Regions from separate parts of the Homo sapiens genome. Here region 2 is linked to region 1. Evidence: fine-mapped expression QTL. Tissue or cell type: lung. Region 1 holds a variant in brackets; the other region holds the start of a gene. All regions are shown on one strand. Distances are between the middles of the regions.

Evidence for each region. PIP is the estimated chance that this variant, and not a neighbour inherited with it, causes the effect.
Region 2: it holds the start of VGLL4, and the variant in region 1 is fine-mapped to the expression of VGLL4 in lung (TOPMed, PIP 0.97).

What each region holds. Positions count from the first base shown.
Region 1 is chr3:11,498,800-11,509,661 of GRCh38, forward strand. All of the region lies in intron 20 of ATG7 (autophagy related 7), which reads left to right. Among named protein-coding and RNA genes, the nearest start is that of VGLL4, 140 kb to the right of the region's middle. The variant T/C (reference allele first, on the strand shown) is at 5,446.
Region 2 is chr3:11,639,490-11,650,351 of GRCh38, forward strand. VGLL4 (vestigial like family member 4) reads right to left here and starts at 4,426. Exons shown (of 5, transcript NM_001128219.3): 1 at 3,948-4,426. The coding sequence starts at 4,029. RefSeq lists enhancers at 1-465, 3,010-3,379, 4,570-4,649.

The sequences.
Region 1 (10,862 bases):
CCTAGGCTGGGCTCCAGGCCAACTGTGCTCCTTCTCTCTGAACTCCTGAAATGGCTGCCGATCCTAGGAGAGTGTATGAGCCAAACTGTTCACATCCTCATTGATCACTGCCATGACTTCTGGTCTCTGAGTTCAGCTATGAGCTCTTGCAGAACAAGTTCTCAAACCTGCTTGGTCCCTGGTGCTCCTAGAGTCTCAGGAATTACTCCACAGAGCCCTAAAAAGAAAAAACAGTCCATAGCAGTTCCATTTATTAAGTAGTTAGGACCAAACAATTTCATAGGTAATTATGTCCTAACAATTTAGTAGCCACTTGAAAAACTGCACATAAATTGAAAGAAAATATAATCATTTTATTCTGAAATAACCACAGTTATTTACTAATGGGCTGTGTGCTCCTGTTGGGGACTACACAGCTTCCCAAACCTTGAAGTCAGATGAGACATTGCCACATTCCTCTATCCTTTCCTGTTCTACATGGGTTTTCACACATACTTGCTCTTATGAAACGACTGCCAAAAACCCAGTTTTCCAAAGATATGAGATCATCAGAAGGAATGCAGATTGAACTAATGTTGAAGCTGTGACCCACCTTGATCTAGTGGTTTGTGCAGTGCCTGACAGATGTTAGTATCATGTTGCTTTCCTTGAAAATCTAAAATACGGCCAGGCGCAGTGGCTCACGCCTGCAATCCCAGCACTTTGGGAGGCCGAGGAGGGCGGATCACCTGAGGTCAGGAGTTCGAGACCAGCCTGGCTAATGTGGTGAAACCCTGTTTCTACTAAAAATACAAAAAATTAGACAGGTGTGGTGGTGCACACCTGTAGTCCCACCTACTCGGGAGGCTGAGGCAGGAGAATCGCTTGAACCGGGAAGGCAGAGGTTGCAGTGAGCCAAGATCATGCCATTGCACTCCAGACTGGACAACAAGAGCGAAACTCCATCTCAAAAAAAAAAAAAAAAGAAACAAAAAATCTAAAATATCCCATGGTGCAGATTCACTGCAGTGCCCAGGGCACCTCCACACGCAGTTTGGGAGCCACAGTGCTAGCTGTTACACAGGTGTAGTATCATACCAGTCTTGTGCATCCCCCAAGATGCATTGGGCAATGCAGTCCTCATAGTAGGTGGCCAACAAATATTTTATGAGCATCTTAATCCTTATTTCCTGATGGGCCACAAACGCCACAAGTTCAGGAGTGTTCTGAGTTCCCTGGTCCAGCAATAATTCAAATAAAATCCATTTTAACATCTTCTGGGGATGCTGTAAAGGATATATCTGTACTGAGTGGAGGTTGGCTTAGATGACCTTTTAATTCCCTTCCAGGGCTAATGCTCTTTAATTCAATAGCAGCAACGCGCAACATAAAGAACAATATGAACACAGTTGTATGGCAGTGGTGAGGATGTAATGTCTCAAACCCCCATGCCAAAATATTAAAAATTTGAATTCTAACATGTAGAATTTGGTTGGAGTAAGGAGGTGGAGACATAAAACTGCTGTTTAGTTAATATGATATTAATGTATTAATTGATGAACCTTCTTAGTTGCCACAAAAATTGATCATATCGAGTAGGACACCAAGAAAACCACAGTAAATGCCAAAAAAATAGAAGTAACAATAACATATCTGATCACTATGCAATACAACTAAAAAATACAAATTAAAAGACTAAAAACTAGAAAATAAAACTCCACCATTGGGAAATTTTAAAACTCCCCTTAGGTCAACAAGAAAATCAAAACCAAAATTCTAGGCCATGTAGAAAATGATGTGAAAGTTCTACACGTAAAATTTTTGAGTATAGATAATACAGTGCTTAGGAAAATTCTTCAACTTAAGGTTTTTTTGTTTGTTTGTCTGAGACGGAGTTTTGCTCTTGTTACCCAGGCCGGACGTCTCACTGCAACCTCCACCTCCCAGGTTCAAGCAATTCTCCTGCCTCAGCCTCCAGAGTAGCTGGGACTACAGGCGTGCGCCACCACACCCAGCTAATTTTTGTATTTTTACTAGAGACGGGGTTTCACCATGTTGGCCAAGATGTTCTCGATCTCCTGACCTTGTGATCTGCCCATCTTGGCCTCCCAAAGTGCTGGGATTACAGGCGTGAGCCACTGCACCGCCCAACCTAAGTTTTTGTATAAATAACAGAAATGAATGAAAATAATAGGGCCGGGCATGGTAGCTCACCCTGGTAATTTCAGCACTTTGGGAAGCCAAGGTGCGAGGATCACTTGAGGCCAGGAGTTCAAGACCAACCTGGGCAACATAGCAAAATGCTGTCTCTACTAAAAATAAAAAATTGGCCAGGTATGGTGATACGCACCTGTAGTCCCAGCTACCTGGGATGCTGAGGTGGGAGGATCACTTGATCCTGGGAAGTTGAGGCTGCAGTGAGCCATGATTGTGCTACTGCACTCAGCCTGGGCAACAGAGTAAGACCCTGTCTGAAAAGAAAAGAAAATCATAGAAATTTTGTATCATGCTTAGGGAGTTATAAGAGGAACAAGAAAATTAACCCAGGGATATCAGAAAACCTGAGAAAAGTGCCTAATATATAGAAAGCAGTTAGTAGATACTAGCTGTTATTATTTGTCAGAAGGACTGAGAAGTTTCTATTTCAGTGTTATTTTTGAGTGGTACAGAAAAATCTACAGTGTTACATTTAGAAAGTAAAGTTCATTTTTGAAACAGTTGAGGAAATTTAAGTACGGACTCCATATTATTAATAGATAATGATATTAATAGATAGGTGTGATAATGTTATTATGGTTGTATAGGAAAATGGTTACATAGTAAATTATGTATTATGGTTGTATAAGAAATTCCCTTTATTCTCAGGGAATATATGCTGATATATTCTGAGGTTAAGTATCATGATGTCTGCAATATACTTTTTATTTTTTAGACAGAGTCTCCCTCTGTTGCCCAGGCTGGAGTGCAGTGGTGCGATTGTGGCTCACTGCAGCCTTCGCCTCCCGGGTTCAAGTGATTCTCCTGCCTCAGCCTCCTGAGTAGCTGGGATTACAGGTGTGCGCCACCACATCCGGCTAATTTTTGCATTTTTAGCAGAGACGGGGTTTCACCATGTTGGCCAGGCTGGTCTAGAACTCCTGACCTCAGTTGATCCCCTGCCTCGGCCTCCCAAAGTGCTGGGATTACAGGCGTGATCCTGGGTTTACTTTTGATCCCTCTTGAAGCTTCCTAAAATGGTAGTAAACATATATACACACATACACACATATGTTTATATATATGTTTGCTGTCATGTAAAATAACAGTAACATATGTCATTTATGTGATATATGCAAAACTCTGAAGGATAATGAGAGAATAAAAGTACAAACAAGAGCAACAAAAATTTTGGATCCTGAAAAGATGGACAAGAACGTTAAATTCTTTTTTTTTTTAATTTTAATTTATTTTTTATTATTATTATACTTTAAGTTTTAGGGTACACGTGCACATTGTGCAGGTTAGTTACATACGTATACATGTGCCATGCTGGTGTGCTGCACCCACTAACTCGTCATCTAGCATTAGGTATATCTCCCAATGCTATCCCTCCCCCCTCCCCCCACCCCACAACAGTCCCCAGAGTGTGATGTTCCCCTTCCTGTGTCCATGTGATCTCATTGTTCAATTCCCACCTATGAGTGAGAATATGCGGTGTTTGGTTTTTTGTTCTTGCGATAGTTTACTGAGAATGATGGTTTCCAATTTCATCCATGTCCCTACAAAGGACGTGAACTCATCATTTTTTATGGCTGCATAGTATTCCATGGTGTATATGTGCCACATTTTCTTAATCCAGTCTATCATTGTTGGACATTTGGGTTGGTTCCAAGTCTTTGCTATTGTGAATTGTGGCATTATTCACAAGAATGTTAAATTCTAAGCCAACCAGTAGAGAAAGCCAGTATTTCCCATAGAGCCTCCTGAAGACTTGGATTTGGGACTATAGATGCATCTGAAAGTGTGAAGTATGGGGCTTAAATAGGAGAGTTGGTTGAACTTCCTAAGAAGCAATTAGATCCCCAGGCCCCCACCTTAGCTTTTGTGCAATAGGACAGACAACTGCCCTCTCTTATTCCATTTTGGAAACTGAAAGTTTGCTTTCTGTTAAGGGTAAAACAGGCTTTTGGATTAGGATACACCAGCCAGAGTTGAAAGTAGCGTGTATACCACTGAAAATATGGGATTAAATGAATGTTTACATACCAGATACAGGGGTATCCAAGCTTCTCCCCACACTAGGATCCAACAACACAGGTGGTCAGGCTCAAATACCTTCCAGGCAGGAGAGTGGGCAGTCCTTCTCCAGAGCCTCTGACCAGCTCAAAAGAGCAGTTGTCGGGGGCTCTTTGAATGACAGTCGGCCAGATGACCCTATACTGAAGGCCATAGTGGACTTCAGACAGCTTCTGAGTACCTTCTCCTTAAGTAGGAGCAGAAACCAAGTATTCCCAGATGTCTAACTCAAAAAAGACTAGACTAAATTTGAAGGAAAAAAGACAATGTAAGGAGATAAAAATGTTACATGTCCCAAAAAATTCTACTATCATTTATGTTCTCAGTAAGAACATATAATATGTACATATATCTTATCCCTCAGTGAAAGAGGTACTACATTCATGAAACAAAAAATGCTATTAACAAAAAAAAGGATATTCAGGCCGGGCGCAGTGGCTCACGCCTGTAATCCCAGCACTTTGGGAGGCTGAGGTGGGCAGATCACGAAGTCAGGAGGTCAAGACCAGCCTGACCAACATGATGAAACCCCATCTCTACTAAAATACAAAAATTAGCTGGGCATGGTGGCGCGTGCCTGTAATCCCAGCTACTCAGGAGGCTGAGGCAGGAGAATCGCCGGAACCCAGGAGGCGGAGGTTGCAGTGAGCCAAGATCACGCCATTGCACTCCAGCCTGGGCAACAGACCGAGACTCTGTCTCAAAAAAAAAAAAAAAAAAAAAAATCAAATGATTAAAAGTACTCTTAGAAATTAAATATATAAGTTTAAAATTCAGTAGAAGGATTAGACAGTGAAATTTAGACTATCTTCCAGAAACTAAGCAAAAAGACAAAGAAATGGAAAATAAGGGAGAAAAGATGAAAAGATGGATCAGGCTAGAAGCAATATTCAAATAATAGAGTTTGCGGAAAGGAAAACATAGAAAACAGGCCAGAAAAAATAAGGAAGAAATTAAAGGCAGTTACCCACAATTGAGAGAAACAAATGTCTCCATTGAGAGAGTCTACCAACTGCCCAGAACAGTAGATGAGACTAGACCAACACTAAGGTTCATCATAGTGAATTTCAAAACAGTGGGAACAAAAGACAGTCGAGAGGGGGAAAAAAGTTGATATACAAAGAATAAAAAATCAGAGTTGTTTTTGGACTTCTGAATAACTACACTGGAAACTGGAAATCAATGCAACAA[T/C]GCTTTCAAACAATAAAGGGAAATTATATCTAATCTACAAGTCTGTATCAAGCCAAACCGCTCATTGAATATGAACATAGAATAGATACTTTCAGATACACAAGATCAGATAAACAAAACATTTGTCTCCTAGTCACCCTATGCAAACCATTGGAGGATGAACTCCAGAAAAGTAAGAGTAACCAAGAAAGGGAAAGAGATGGAATATAGGGAATGGGAGATCCCACAAAGGAGAGATTGAAAGGCATCCTCAAAACAGTAGCGAAGGGAAGCCTGGGGTGGCAGCTGGGCCTGAAGCACTGAGGATGACTAGAACAGACTGGATCCAGGCCAGAGGGCTCTAGGACAGATTGTGTTAAGATGAAATGGCTTGAATACCTAATGTGTCTGAACATATATTTAGGAGGTTTAGACAGTTGGCAGAGAGTTTGCGATTAAATTATTGATAAGTACATAGAGACAAAGTAGAACAACAGAAAAGACAGTTGTTAATTCCAGGGAAAACAATGTTGTACAAGAAAGAATAAGTAATCCTAGTATATTACATGGCTTACCTAGATACAGCAATTAAACAGTCAAAATAATGTCAACACTGGATGTAGATCTAACCAAAATTATAGTATAATTATGTTGAAATGGTGGAAAGATAGGGAGGCAAGAGTTTGCCATGACAGGGGTAAGGGGGCTCACAGCAGTGAAAGAGCCAAATCCTCATTTACCGAGCAAAATGGGAAATATATATAATGCCTAAACCTGAAAAGATCGAGAAGTCAAGAGGTGACAATATGAGCACGTTATTTTAACATACAGAGGTAACTAAAAGTATCAGGTAAGTCTCTACGGAGTATAGTATGGAAGCTGGGAGCCTGTTAATTTTCATAACAAGCCTTGGAATTATTTGGCTCTTTAAACTATGTTCATACATAATTTTACTCAAGTGAAAACGTTTTAAAAAGAACAAAAGTGCTATGAGAATGGGCAGACTGGGTTTTTAAAGGACGAGTAGGAGTTCTATAGGCCTAGGGAATGGAGGAGTGTTCGCGCAGGTAGAGAAAAGAAGACTAGCGGTAAGCCAGGTGTATCCTGGCTCTAAGGAAGCTTGGGATGTAGGATATAGTCACACTTAAGTATATGGGCTTTTCTCCCTTGGTGTCTGTGTTGTTTAGAATTGAAGACATGGACCTTTTGTTACTGATAAAATTATAACCTATTACTATTTTTGGTTATTGTTTTAACATAACATTATTCTTTGAATTGATCTCAAAGAGAGGAAAATGAGAGGTCACTGAAATGACCCTGGCAGTAAAATTTGCTGAAAAGCAGCGTCCTTTACAAGTCCTTACCTCCGACCGCAAAAGAGTCTTCTAAAGACCACTCTCAGCCCTCAAGGGTCCTTGCAAGTCAGTGACACCACAGGAAATGGGAACCTTGCCAAGAATTAGGGAAATTCAGGTGTCTGCAAGTCCCTAAACCCTAGGGCCAAAAAAAGGATTTGGCAGATGTTTGTGTGTCCTGGAGGCAGATGGATGAAAGTATCAGTAGGCTCCGTGGCTTAAGTGCTAGTCAGTGCTCGCCATTGGTCTTTTGCAGTCTTGTCACTTCTGTCTGGAGGCATTCAGAGAGCTGAAAGGTACACAGTGCAGTGGTAACATCTGGAATTGACCCCTGGCTCCACCATCTTCATGATTAGTAAAGTCACTAAGCCCCTTTGAGAGCAAGATCAAGGCAGTCACAGTCACAGGGGCATTATGAGTATCACGTAAAGTCATGTATTCATATATGGGAATGCTTTGTAAATAGAACATTTCTGTATAAATCTTGCTTTCAGTTAGTGAGTTTGTGTATTTTTTGAGTTGGTCTCTCTGTAAATGTGCCTTCTTTCCCTAGTACATTTATTATTACTGAGTCCAGGTACGTTTGTGTATTAGTTAAGGTATAGGCTAAGGTACTATAATAGACCCCAGAATATCACAGTTTAAACATGGTAGAAATTTGTTTCTCCATGTAACAGTCTAGAGCTGCACCATCCAGTGCGGTGGCCACTAAGCACATTTGATTATTTAAATGTAATTCGAGCAAAATAAAAAGTTAACTGCCTCAGTTGCACTGGCCGCATTTCAAGTGCTTAGTAGCCTCTTGGCTAGAGGTTACTGTATTGGACAGCACAGATAAAACATTTCCATCATTGGTTGGGTGTGGTCATCCTATGTGCTTATGCGTATCAGCACTTTGGGAGGCCAAGGTGGGCAGATCACTTGAGGTCAGGAGTTTGAGACCAGCCTGGTCAACATGGTGAAACCCCATCTCTACAAAAAAAAAAAAAAAAAAAAAAAAAAAAAACCCAAAAATTAGCTGGGAGTGGTGGCAGGTGCCTGTAATCCCAGCTACTCAGGAGGCTGAGGCAGGACAATCACTTGAACCCAGGAGGCAGAGGTTGTGGTGAGCTGAGATTGTGCCACTGCACTCCAGCCCGAGTGGCAGAGCGAGACTCTGTCTGAAAACAAAACAAAGCAAAAAAATGCTTCCATCATCACAGAAAGTTTAGTTGGGCAGCCCTGGTCTAGAGGAGTGGTCTAGAACTTGATGGGTGCTCTGCTGTACAAGGTCATCCACAGGCCTGAGTTCCCTAAATATTATTGCTCTGCCATTCCCTAGGTAAGGATTCATAGCATTTTTTGTGCCATGGATCACTTTACAGAGTGACAAAGGCTAGGGACCACTTCACAGACTAATGCTTTTAAATGTGCAAAATCAGGCTGGGCGCAGTGGCTCATGCCTGTAATCCCAGCACTTTGGGAGGCTGAGGCAGGCAGATCACTTGAGATCAGGAGTTTGAGAACAGCCAGGCCCAACATAGTGAAACCCCGCCTCTACTAAAAATACAAAAATTAGCCAGGTGAGGTGGCACGCACCTGTAGTGCCAGCTACTCAGGAGGCTGAGGCAGGAGAATCGCTTGAACCCAGGAGGCGGAAGTTTCAGTGAGCTAAGATCACACCACTGCACTCCAGCCTGGGAGACAGAGTGAGACTCCATCTCAAAATAAATAAATAAAAATTTTGTTTAAATGTGTAAAATAAAACACAGAGTTACAAAGGAAATTAATTATGTTGAAATACAATTATCAAAGTATTTTAAAAACCCAAAATTTATGACATAGTAATATGTACTTTATTAATACATCAAATAATGATCTAGTGTCAATTCTAAAGGCTATTTTTGTAATTCCAAAGTAGTGATGAGTATTTGTGATATTTCAAGACAATCCATAAGTATAATGTGATATGAAAATACCTATAATTTCTGTTATTGACAGAGTCATGGACACTGCTAATAATGTGGTTTGTTCCCTCCATTATAAGTGAAGGAAATGCTAAAGTTATGGGTGTTTTTTGTTTTTGTTTTTGTTTTTGTTTGTCCTTCCAAATTTAAAGACCAGTGAATTCTATTCATGGACTCCTTGAGGGTCTGAGGACCCCAGGGTTAAGAAGCCCTGCTGGGAATTATTAAAGCTAGCCCAGCAATTTTAAGTCCACACTCTAGATGTGGGAAGGAAGAGAGGAAATGGAAGGCAACCATTTCCTGCTTAAAGGACTGGACCTGGCAGTTGCTCACATCCCATCTCATTGGCCAACATTAGTCACATGGGGTGTAAGGCATGCTGGGAAACACAGTCTGTAGTTGGGCAACCCTGAACCTTGCTGGTAATTAAAAAAAAAACAAAAAAACAAAAAACAAAACAAAACTGGGAGAGTTCCATCAGTAAAAGGAAGAAGGGAAGAATGGCTAGTAGGATAAACAACAGCCTCTACCACAGCTTGGCTCATCTCTATGGAATTAAAACAAAAGTGTTTTTTCAAAAATGTGCTGTTTACTCTCCGACACTTTGTATACCTTCAGGTCTACAGCAGATGTCAACAGGAAGCATTTCACTCTTACTAGCTATGGACAGGCCCCTATGGTGGTGCCAGTTCGTGAGGCACACAGTGTCTAAGGTGGGGGGGTGTCCAATCTTTTGGCTTCCCTGAGCCACGTTGGAAGAATAATTACCTTGGGCCGCACATAAAATACACTAACGATAGCTGATGAGCTTAAAAAAAAAAAAAAAGAAAAAATTCATACTGTTTTAAGAAAGTTTACAAATTTGTGTTGGGCTGCATTCAAAGCCATCCTGGGCCACATGCGTTAGACAAGCTTGGTCTAAGGGATATAGCTTTATTTTTTAAATAAGAGACAGAGTCTTGCTCTGTGGCCCAGGCTGGAATGCAGTGGCCTGATCATAGCTCACTGCCTACCACAAATTCCTGGGCTCAGGTGATCCTCCTGCTTCAGCTTCCGAAGTAGCTGGTGTACCACCATGCCTGCTAATATTATTATTATTTTCTTGTAATAGAGACAGTGTCTCACCATCTTGCCCAGGCTGGTCTCCAACTCTTGGGCTCAAGTGATCCTCCTATCTTGCTTTCCCAAAGCGCTGAGATTACAGGTGTCAGCTACCATGCACAGCCCTATGTAGCCTATTTTGAACTAATAATCCTCAGTTCTGTGCCTGTAGTTGCTGACAGAGCCAACACTTCACAAGTGTTGGCTTCTGAAGTGTGTTTGTCTCTTGCTTAAAGCAAACTCGGTACAACGTGATCTGCACTTACAAAACTAATAACAAATTAATAACAAATTAGATCTCTGCTCCTGTTACCAATGACCAATATTCTATGTGCAAGAGAGCATAAGTAGAAGGAGACAGACTTTTTCCAAACAAACAGATCCCTTGAGCAAATGCCCTTTAAACTTTAAAATAACAACCCCCTTGGGTTGTGCAGGCCTTTAACTTTTCAGAGAGCTTTAAGTACCTTAACTCTTCTTATTTTATTAAAACACCCAGGTCATGGGTTGGTTTTTTTTCTTTCCAAGTTAGTTAAATAAATAAGCAATTATGACGCAGCGCCACATGGCCAACAGCTTTTAGCTTATAAACATAGAGTTTGAAAAGCAGTACTTAGAGGCCAACTTGGTTGGCTGCTGCCGGCAGGAGGGAGCCGAGCTGTTCCCGGCCCAGATAACACTTAAAGGGCCAGGCAGGCCCTCATGCATGCACATTTGTCTACATCCAGGGAGCTGTTTTTTTTCTGATGCAACATGAATTTCAGTGTGGTTTTTTTTTTTTTTAAGTGCCAAATTGTGAGCTCCTGATGGCCAGCCACTTGTGTCTTATAAGCCTCCACAAAGCCTGGTGCAACTCCTTGTATGTCACAGACATAGACATGTTTGCTGACAAATTGTTTGTATTTTATGAGCGTTTATAATGGCCTTTTAAGTAAGTGACGTTTTAGAGTTTGCTGAATGAAGAGTGATTTTTATTTAGTCTCAGAGGCACAGTTGTTTGGTGTGGTTGGTTTTTTTTGGCCACCCCTCCCCCAAT
Region 2 (10,862 bases), 140 kb after region 1:
CTGTAATCCAGGGTGTTATCCCCGTGCTAGGCCGTGAGGGCACCCAGGACGGGGCATGACCCTAACATCACGGAGCTAATGAGGAGATAAGACATGAAATAAGCCCGGCGCGGTGGCTCACACCTGTAATCCCAGCACTTTGGAAGGCCAAGGCGGGCGGATTACCTGAGATCAGGAGTTTGAGACCAGCCTGGCCAACATGGTGAAACCCTACCTCTACCAAAAATACAAAAATTAGCTGGTCATGGTGCAGGGCACCTACTGTAATCCCAGCTACTAGTGAGGCTGAGGCAGGAAAATCACTTGAACCCGGGAGGCAGAGGTTGCAGTGAGTGGAGATGGCGCCACTGCACTCTAGTCTGGGCGACAGAGCAAGACTCCGTCTCAAAAGAAAAAAAAAAGACATGAAATAATTCTGGAGAGGCAGCACGGCATAGAAGATTCATAGAAGAGTCAAAACTCAATTCAATCCTGCCACAAACTTTCTAAATAAACTAAATCAACTCTCTGAAAAACAGAGTTTCCCTCTCTGAGCCTCACTTTCCTTGGTGAAAACAAGGCAAAGGTATTAGATGATGTCTGAGGCCCTGGATAGCTCTGCAATAATTAGATAGAGAATACAAGGCAGTATATAATCAAGTATTAAATTATACAGGAGCAACTACAGCTGCCATTGAGAGCTTGCACTGATTTTTTTTTGAGTCAGCCTTCATTCTAAACCACTTCCTGAAAGCCCACTCAGACCCTGTGCTAGGATTCAGGGATGCAGCGGTCACCAAGACAGAATGCTCTGCCTTCACGAGGCTTTCGCCAGTCTAGTAAGGTATTCTCAGGTGTTCAGAGGAGGGAAAAAATGAGGGCTGGGGTTGGCCTATGACCTTTGCATGGAGACAGAGGCAAAACTGGGCTTCAAGTGGGTATCATCTGAGCATTCAGTGGGGTGATGGACGCAGTGGTTAATTGCTGAGTACGGTAGTAATAAGCCATGAGGTTCTGAACACATAGCACAAGCCCAGTTCTACTAATCCGCTCATCATTAGTGAAGGGAATTAGTTAGCTTCCAGAAGTCAGCCAGACTTCGATTCTTCCGGCCCTCTCCCTAACGTCTCCTTCTCCCACCCCAAACCTGCTAATTGTGGTTAACTTTTTCCCTTTATTCTTTTCAGTTATTCTTGCAGACAACTATGGTGGAGGGCAGGAGCCAGGAAGCAGTTACCAAGGAGGGAGTCCACATCTAAGCAATATGGAGTCAGTCAGGAAGGAAGACCTTGTATGCTACAAGGTAAACGGCTAAAAAGATCGATTTGCGTATTAAGTCACAAGAGAGGTTTAAGAAAGACAGTACAGGCTGAGTGCGGTGGCTCATGCCTGTAATCCCAGCACTTTGGGAGGCTGAGGTGGGTGGATCACCTGAGGTCAGGAGTTTGAAACCAGCCTGCCCAACATGGTGAAACCCATCTCTATTAAAAATACAAAAATGGGCCGGGCATGGTGGCAGGCACCTGTAATCCCAGCTACTCAGGAGGCTGTGGCAGGAGAATGGCTTGAACCCGGGAGGCAGAGGTTGCAGTGAGCCAAGATCGCGCCATTGCACTCCAGCCTGGGGGACAAGAGCGAGACTTCATCACCAAAAAAAAAAAAAAAAAAAAGACCAGACACATGGTTTATTTTAGAGTAGAGCTATGTCTCATACAACTAAGGAATATGGTATAATTTAGCTGGTAAGAATAATTAACCATCCGCATCTTAATTTTTAAAACTAAAATGTCATAAAATTAATTTGTCCCTTATTCTTAAGGGGCATGAAACTTGACTGTGCCCTAAATGAAATCAAATGTTGCCTACCAACAGTACATTCCATTTTCCAAACAACTTCCCTGGAATGCTGGGGAGCTGATATGTTTAAAACGAATATTCTCCAAGTCCAAGTGTTGGATTTTAAAGAACCATAACCTTTCCAACTTTTCCTACAAAAAAATCCCGTGTGTGATTTATGCCCATCTTCAAAACACCCTCTGGAGTTCAGACCAGATGTGTGCAGTGTTTACACTGAGAAAACCACTAGGACATCAACAATTCACTATAAACACCACTCAAATTTTGCTGTGCTTTCCTTCATTTCCTCTGTATTTATTCTGGTGTTAAAATAATGTTAACTCTCATAATAAGGAAAATAGGAGCAGATGTTTAAACCAAACAGACTTCAGCCCATTATCCCATATAGCTACTCAATCTTCAAAATCAAAGTTTCTTCCTCCCAAATACCGAGAGAGAAGAGCAGAGCAGAGCACTCTAGTTTCCTGGGTGTTGCATGCTACACAACAACTCGACCTGGGCTCGCTGTCCGTAAGTTGGTCCTCACCAATCGGAGACAGGAAAAACTAATCTGGTATCAATTTCCTAACAATCTTATATTTCTCTCTTAGGCCATTATGTTTTGTTTTTAAAATATCGTATTACTTGTTGGCAAAGACAATACAACAGAAATTGCCTCAGAAGTTTTTCTTTCTTGTTGGGGGAAGCGGGGATGGTTAAAAAAAAAAAAAACAAGAAAAACAAAACCCTGACTACAATGTGTGAATGTCACGGGAAACAAGCCCAGCAATGGCTGCTTACGGCTTTCTAAAGTCGGCTGCCTTTTTTAAGTGAGTTCAGAAGCAAGATGTTACTTAACACATCAGATGCAAAGAAAGAAATTCACGAAAATTCTCATAGCAGGAACTAGTAGGAGTAAAGAAAAACAAATACTCTTTTTAAAAAACGTTAAATATGAGATCCTCATCCATAGAGTTTTAAAAAACAACGTGAATGAGGGTTGTTGTTGTTTTTTTTCCTTGAAGGGGAAAAATACTCTTGAAAGGGTGAGTTTTCAACTGATTAGGAAACAGGCCTGAAGTTTTTAGATTAAAAAAATACAAGTGAATCACCCTCCCAAGTTTTTGTAACTGTTTTCTTTTTCAAGAGAAATGTCCCGTGTATTATTGGAGAAAAAATGGAAACTGCTCCTGCTGAATGAGAAAGAGAAGAGTCCCGGATGTGTGTGTGGTTACAACAGAAAACACTCTTCCTGCCAGGCCGAACTCCCCCGGAGATGCCCTCGGCGGCAGACCCAGGGCCATTGCCACTTTTTCAAATCGCACGTAGAGGATGTCCGAGGGCTTAAGAAATAGATTTTTCTCTGACTGCTACCAGAGACAGTTGGAAATACAAGACAGTGGGGGAAGCACCTCGCGGGCAGTAGGAGGTAATAAATAACAGTTCGGCGCGGCTCTCTCTTTTTCAGGGCAGGCTGGGGGTCGGGGTGTTGTGTAATCGCTCCCACAGGGAGCGGAGCGCGAGGAACACCCCCCAGTGTCAGCGCTCCCCGGGCTGCACAGGAAGCGCCAGCGAGACAAAGAGCCCGCCTGTGCTCGCTGACACGGTGCCCTTCCGGCCCCACGCGGGAGAGGGACATTCTCCGCTGTTTGGGACGCTCACTCGCGAGCACAAAAACTCGCTGTAACTTTGGCTCCCCCTCCGTGAGCTGCAGGGCGCCGTGGCCCACAGCAGGGTACAGTAGACGGTGCAATCCTTACCAGCCCCTCCCCCAAAGAGGCTCAACTTTTACCGGCGTCCTACAAGTCCTTCCCCTAAAGACAATATTAACGGAAATCAAAAATACATACATTTTAAAGAGTTAAAAATGTGAGGCGCGAGTACGTTGCAAGCAACGAGCAAACTTTGAAGGGTTTCTACTTCACTGCCTCCCCGTCCAGCCCCCTCCACCGCCCCCCGCAGCCTGAGATCCGAACACACTCGGTGCCGAACCGAACCTAAGAAACGCCGGCCTTTCAAGTGCCCTACACCCCGGAGGAGGACAGCGGGCGCTTAGAAGGCAGGCACCCAGCACACTGAGGAGGAGTGGCCGGGACGAGCAACGGGCAGTAATTCTACAACGGGACATCTACCTTCGTAGCACAGAATGCCGATATTGTTGTTCATCTTGTCCAAGTACTGATAGTTCAACAGGTCCATCTTCATAAATAGCATTTATTGGGCTAGCAAAGAAAACCAGCTCTTTGCTTTTGCCCCAAAAGAGTTAAGTTTCAAAAATCAATTGTTGCTGAGTAGCTCCTGGCTCTTCAACTTCACAAAGGCAGAGGCCCAGCCTCAGACTATCAAAACAAAGTATGCAAAAGTTAAAAAAAAAAAAATCAGGCACAAAAAAATCGAGCTCACACGAAACCCTTCAAGGGCTTACTGGTAGACGGTGTATGTACTGTATCCCCGATCGAGTATGAAAACAGCGTTTCAGAAGTCCTTACAAGTCCTTCCTGGAAATGGAAAAGAGTGAAAAAGAGAAACGCGCAGCCCGTTTCCTAGGACAAAGCGGCGCCGGCCCCTCTCACAGCCCGCTGCAAGCCGGCAGCGCTGACATGAGGGCTATGCTTGGCATGACTCCTATGCCGCCGCTTCCTCTTCCCGCAGGAGGCCGAGCATGCTCACTGCGCCGCGCTGCCGAGGCAGGGAGGGCTTCTGCACAGGATCAGCCTCTCAATGTAGCAAGTGTTGGAAAGAAAGAGAAAGGGGAGGGGGAGAGACTCTAGAGACGGGGCCTTGGCAGAGTGGCTCTTGACAGGAAGCAGCCAAGCCGCTGCAAAACCGTAGGAGGAAAAAAGAAAACCCAGGAAGTTTCTTTTTCAGGAGCTAAGTACAAAGTAAAAAATCCATCATGGAAGCAAACTCCCATGGAATGCAACTTTCGTGAAACTTCATGTTGGGGTTTCGGAAACCCAAAGTGCTAGTGATGCATAAGCCATATATATATATATAGTGTCTTTGTTTCTTTTAAAGATTGTTTTATAATATCCATTTACACTTTAACTGGATATTTAAATTTCTGATGTTAATGTTACATATAGCTTCTTCCATAATCCCCATAACAACTGAGATGGACAGGGCAAGGAGGGTATCACCCTTTCACAGCAGAGGAAACAGGTTCAGATGGATTAAATGACTGGCCCACAGCCCCCAAAATAGTTGACAGAACTACTTTTAAAGTGTTTTTTCCCACCTAATGTTATAATTTTATTTAAAAAAACGAGGGGGCCGGGTGTAGTGGCTCACACCTGTAATCCTAGTCGAAGCAGGCGGATCACTTGAGGTCAAGAGTTCAAGACCAGCCTGGCCAGCATGGTGAAACCCCATCTCTACTAAAAATACATAAATTAGCCTGGTGTGGTAGCGCACGCCTGTAGTCCCAGCTACTCAGGAGGCTGAGGTGGGAGAATTGCTTGAACCTGAGAGGAGGAGGATGCAGTGAGCCAAGATCGTGACACTGCACTCCAGCCTGGGCAACAGAGTGAGACTTTGTCTCAAAAAAAAAAAAAAAAAAGAAAAGAAAAAAAGGAGACAAGGAGAGGAGAAGAGATGGAAGAGTGTTTAAGCAAATAGGGCTATAATATCAAAAATTAAAAGTGTACTTGAAATTATAGAGGGAAAGGGTAAAATTATTTTCATTTGGCATGTATGTCACCCACCTGTGTGTAAGAAGCTAGTGGCATGCAGCTGTACTATTTGCTATTGGAAGAACTTGGGGCTTAAACTTTGATTACCCAGTGCCTAGCACAACCAAGTTCAGGTGCCCAAAAACTGTTTACTGAACGAGTGAACCACTGAATGTTCAGTTTTCAGCACATCAAGAACGTGTTAACAAAATAGAAAAAAAAAAAACAAAAACTAAACATTTGAATTACTATTCTAAAAATATATTTTTAATATTCCAAAATAATATTTGAATAAATAATTTGAAGGAGTTGTATGTTAAAAATCCAGCAATAGGCCAGGCGCGGTGGCTCACGCCTGTAATCCCAGCACTTTGGGAGGCCGAGGCGGGTGGATCATGAGGTCAGGAGATCGAGACCATCCTGGCTAACACGGTGAAACCCCGTCTCTACTAAAAATACAGAAAATTAGCCGGGCGCGGTGGCGGGCGCCTGTAGTCCCAGCTACTCGGGAGGCTGAGGCAGGAGAATGGCGTGAACCCGGGAAGCGGAGCTTGCAGTGAGCCAAGATTGCGCCACTGCAGTCTGCAGTCCGCAGTCCGGCCTGGGCGACAGAGCGAGACTCCGTCTCAAAAAAAAAAAAAAATCCAGCAATAGTTGCATTGGGTTTATTAGGCACACTCATGGCAAGGTGTTCTAATGAAATCTTACTTGGGAGTCCGGATGCGGTGGCTCACGCGTGTAATCCCAGCACTCTGGGAGACTGAGACGGGCGGATCACTTGAGGTCAGGAGTTTGAGAACAGTCTGGCCAACATGGTGAAACCCTGTCTCTACTAAAAATACAAAAATTAGCCGGGCATAGTGGCATGTGTCTGTAATCCCAGCTACTAGGGAGGCTGAGGCAGGAGAATTGTTTGAACACGGGAGGCAGAGGCTGCAGTGAGCCAAGATTGTGCCACTGCACTCCAGCCTGGGTGACAGAACAAGACTCCGTCTCAAAAAACAAAACAAAACAAAAAAACTATATGACATCTAAATACTAAATACTGTTGCCGTCATTGCTGCAACAGTAATCACTGGGGTGACATCAGGGGAAGTAAGTAATAGGGGAATCAAGATTTCACAAGCTTTCATTTATAAGAATATTTATTGACACTATATTACATGTAATAAGCTATAGTGAAAGATATGTATCCTATCAATTGTAATTAAAATACTTAATGGTATTTGGTGGGGAGGGTTGAAGAAAACTCAAAACTCGTAACATCCAGTATACATGAGATCATTGCACTGAAAACAAACAATATCAGGTATCAGATTTAAATTTAACTGATAGTTTTGGAGTACTCTTACTGTGCTACGTTTTTACATAAATTCTCAATCAGAAAACTTTATCCATCATTGTCCCACATGGAAGAGAGGTGGCTGCACATTAGAACCAGGGGGGAGCTTTTAAAAATCTTGCTGCTGAGGTTGCATCCCCAACTCATCTGAGGTGGGAACCAGCAGCAGTAGCTTCTAAAGTCCCAGGTGATTCCAATATGCAGTCAAGGTTGAGAACCATTGCTTTCATCTAGGGAGGAAAAAAAAAAAAACCCTGCCTTAAGATATTTCATTTTATTCACTTATTTTGACATGAAGAATTTTTTTAATAGTAATTTAAGCAAATGATTCAAACAATACCATTGTAGAAAATGAATAAAATATTTGGTAACGTCCCTTAAGGGACTCAGCATCACTTAGAACAGCAGTTCTCAGCCTCCGGGTGGCAACCATTTTCGTGGACACCGTCTCACAGGTCTACCTTGACTATTGTAACATTCCCAGCCACAGCCACCACGTCTTTCCCGCTGATCCGGGAGGCTAGCACGGTGCTACCCAAGTGTGATCCAGAGGGGTTCGAGCACCAGGTGTTCCTAGTCCCCAAAAGCTAGATACAGAAACGGAGAATGAACATTTAAAACTTTTATAGCAATTCGATAGACTAATTTTATGTCTCTCAAATCTTAATATTAAAGAAATTTGAGGGCTGTAGTTTTCGTATTTCTAGTTATAGGGCTGCATTACATTTTATAAACTATCAGTCTGCAACAAAGTCTTGGGGAAAAATGAAACAAACCTGGTTTCACAGAGAAGCTTGTGCTCCAGAGGGGCCAGCTACAACAGCCCGCCTCTGCAGGCTGGGAGCGCCTCCTGGACCGGCTCTAGGCCTTTCCATCCCAGCTCCTGACAACTTTCACCTTAGTTTCAAGCACACTGGATGACCTGCAGTGAGTTATTCCACAAAGCACATCAGTATGCTTCTCGGTGTGCAGGACGTCTCTTCTTTCCCAACCTGTCTACTCAGCAAACATCCACTCTTCCTTGAGACTTGTCAGAAAGCCCCTCTTGTCCTGTGAAATCTCCCTACGATCCCATCCTACCATCTCCTCACACCCTACGCCAAGCTATCCTTTTACAGGGTAAGTAGTCCTTATCCAAAATACTTGGACCAGAAGTGTTTTGGATTTCGGACCTTCTTGGATTTTGGAATAGTTGCATTATACTTACCAGTTGAGCATCTCTAATTTTAAAGTCTGAAATCTGAAATGCTCCAATATGAGCATTTTCACCTGAATGTTGTGTCAGCACTCAACACTGTTCAGATTTTGGAGCATTTTTCATTTCAGATTTTTGGATTAGGACGCTCAACCCATACCTTATATGTGCTTCTTTCCTAGCCTAGATCTTCGGAGCAAGGACTATGCCTTCCTCACCTTTTCGAGGTCAGTCTGGCAGAAGTCTGGCAGAAGCCTGGCGCATGGTAGGCCATCAATAAATACCAGCTGAATAAAATCAGTAAACATCTAAACGGCAGATTCTTCATTTCCCCATCCCTACTTCCAGCACACTCTGGATTATCTTACTCGATGTCATTAGGTGGCTGTCAACATCTCTTGGAGACCACAGGTCCTTGCCTTTAAGAAACACCATGTAGATTCTGATTGTACTTCAGGGTACAATCAGCTCATCCATAAAAAAAAAAAAATACTAGAAAATATCAATCCTTCTCAGATTCATTCATAGGATAATATATTCATAATTAAAGTAGCAACAGGATAGTTTTGTAGGGAATTGGAAAGATGGGTCTAAATTTTATCCACACACACAAATGAGATGGGAAAAGCTAGTTCTTTTTCTACGAATGAATAAGTTTGATCTATCAAATATTTAAAACATAAAGCAAAGAATATATTTTGGAGTGTTACTGGGTAGAGACTAGGTAGGACCAGACAGATACTGTGGATATAGGAATCAGAAATCCAGGCCAATGGGGAAGAAGTGGATTACAAAACAAACATTACTGAGAAAAGAATCCAGATAGCACTTTGCCTTATACTGTACATCAAAATAAATCCCAAATGTTTTAAAGATTATTTAGATGCTTTTAAAGTAAGGTTTTTGCTGCAAAAACTTACAAAACTATAAGGATATGTTCAGACTATCTGATGTGGAATAGGAAAACATTTGCTAAGCCAGAAATAAAATTTTTAATCAAAGACAGAAGCCACCAAGGAAGATGTAGAATTTGATTGAGAATACAGATTTTATGCTTTTATACATCTAAAAACACCAAAACCAAGTAAAGGCAAAATACAAAACTGAAGAATATATTTGTGTCATATATTACAGTGAAGGATAAATGTTCTTGGTATTCAAAGAACATTTAAAAATAGAAAGAACAAAGGAAAAAATTGAAAAACCACTTGATCTGAATAACATTTTTTAAGAGCATGAGAAACAAATGGCCAACACATTTTTGAAAAACTATTCAACCTTACTAATAATCAAAGAAATATAAATTTTAAGTGATTTTCCAGCTACCAATTTAACAAAAAGACTTTTTCAATCTTATTTCTTGCTGGTGAAACAGGATGCCATTGGAATCTTTGCTCACTGCTAATGCAGTATAAACAGATAACGCCTGTGTATAAAGCAGGTTGGCACACACTAGACTGTTTTATGAAAAATGTCCATGCCTTTGTCCTTGCCTTGGACTCTACTTCTAGACTTCTGTCTTAAGAAAATAAGATTTGAAGAGTTTCATAAAGATGCTTATCATACAGCTATGTGTAAAATGAAAACCTGAAAACCTAAAGTCCAAATAAAAGGATGCATTAAAACCGTGGCTTATCGATGACAGACTATTACGCAGCCATTACAACACCTTCAATAATCTATAATGACATGAGGAAATGCTATGCTATATACTGTGTGACAGTACTACATTTGTTAACTGAAAACAATAAAAATCGGATATAAAACTAAAACACACATTATTCACCAACTGTGCTAATGTATTTATGAAAACATACATATATATATAGGAAAAAGTATACATTAAAAAGACTGGAAAGTATTCCAAAATGTTAATAGTGCCCATCTTTGAATGGTGGGCATTTTTTCCATTTTCCTGAATTTCTAACTAGCCTACAAATAGTTTATTCTTCCTATAATGAAGATGCGGATAAGGAAAGTTCTTGATTTTTAAAAAGCAGCAACACAATGAAATAATATTCCCTGGTGAGACATAAGCAATGGATATGTATATCTTATTATAGCTTACATATCTCATGATATCTCCTTTTGATTTGGGTTTAACAACTTAAAAATAATAAGAATCCAAACATTTCTTTAGAACTTTGGAACATTCAAAGATGTTTAAGATGGGGTATCTGTCTCAAAGAGCAAAATTGACAGAGACAGCTCTACACTTGCAGAGCTTATAGACATGTGTACGTGCTTTTTATCTTCTACTGCTTACTAATTATGTCATATGTCAGTACCAATTCCCCCAAACTAGACCATAAGCTTCTAGAGGGAAGGAAAGCTAAGCCTCAGTCCTTAGAGTAAAACTCCCCCACAGCACACAAGTGCTCTATTTGGTTTGGTTTGGTTTGGTTTGGTTTGGTTTGGTTTGGTTTGGTTTGGTTTGGTTTTTTTGAAACAGGGTCTCCCTCTATTGCCCAGGCTAGAGTGCAGTGGCTCAATCACAGCTCACTGCAGCCTTGACTTCCCAGGCTCAAGTGATCCTTCCAACTCAGCAGGACCACAGGTGCATGCCACCGTGTCTGGCTAACTTTTTTTTTTAATCATTTTTTGTAGAGACAGGTTCTCACTGTGTTACCCAGGCTGGTCTTGAACTCCTGGCCTTAAGCCATCCACCCGCCTCGGTCTCCCAAAGTGCTGGGATTACTGGCATGAGCCACCACGCCTGGCCCAATAAGTGCTTTATAAATGTTAATTATGGTTGTGCCTCAGCATCTTTGTGGAATAATGGCAATATGACGATAGAAGAAAGCCCAGGCTAATTACTAGGCTGATCTGTTTAATTAGC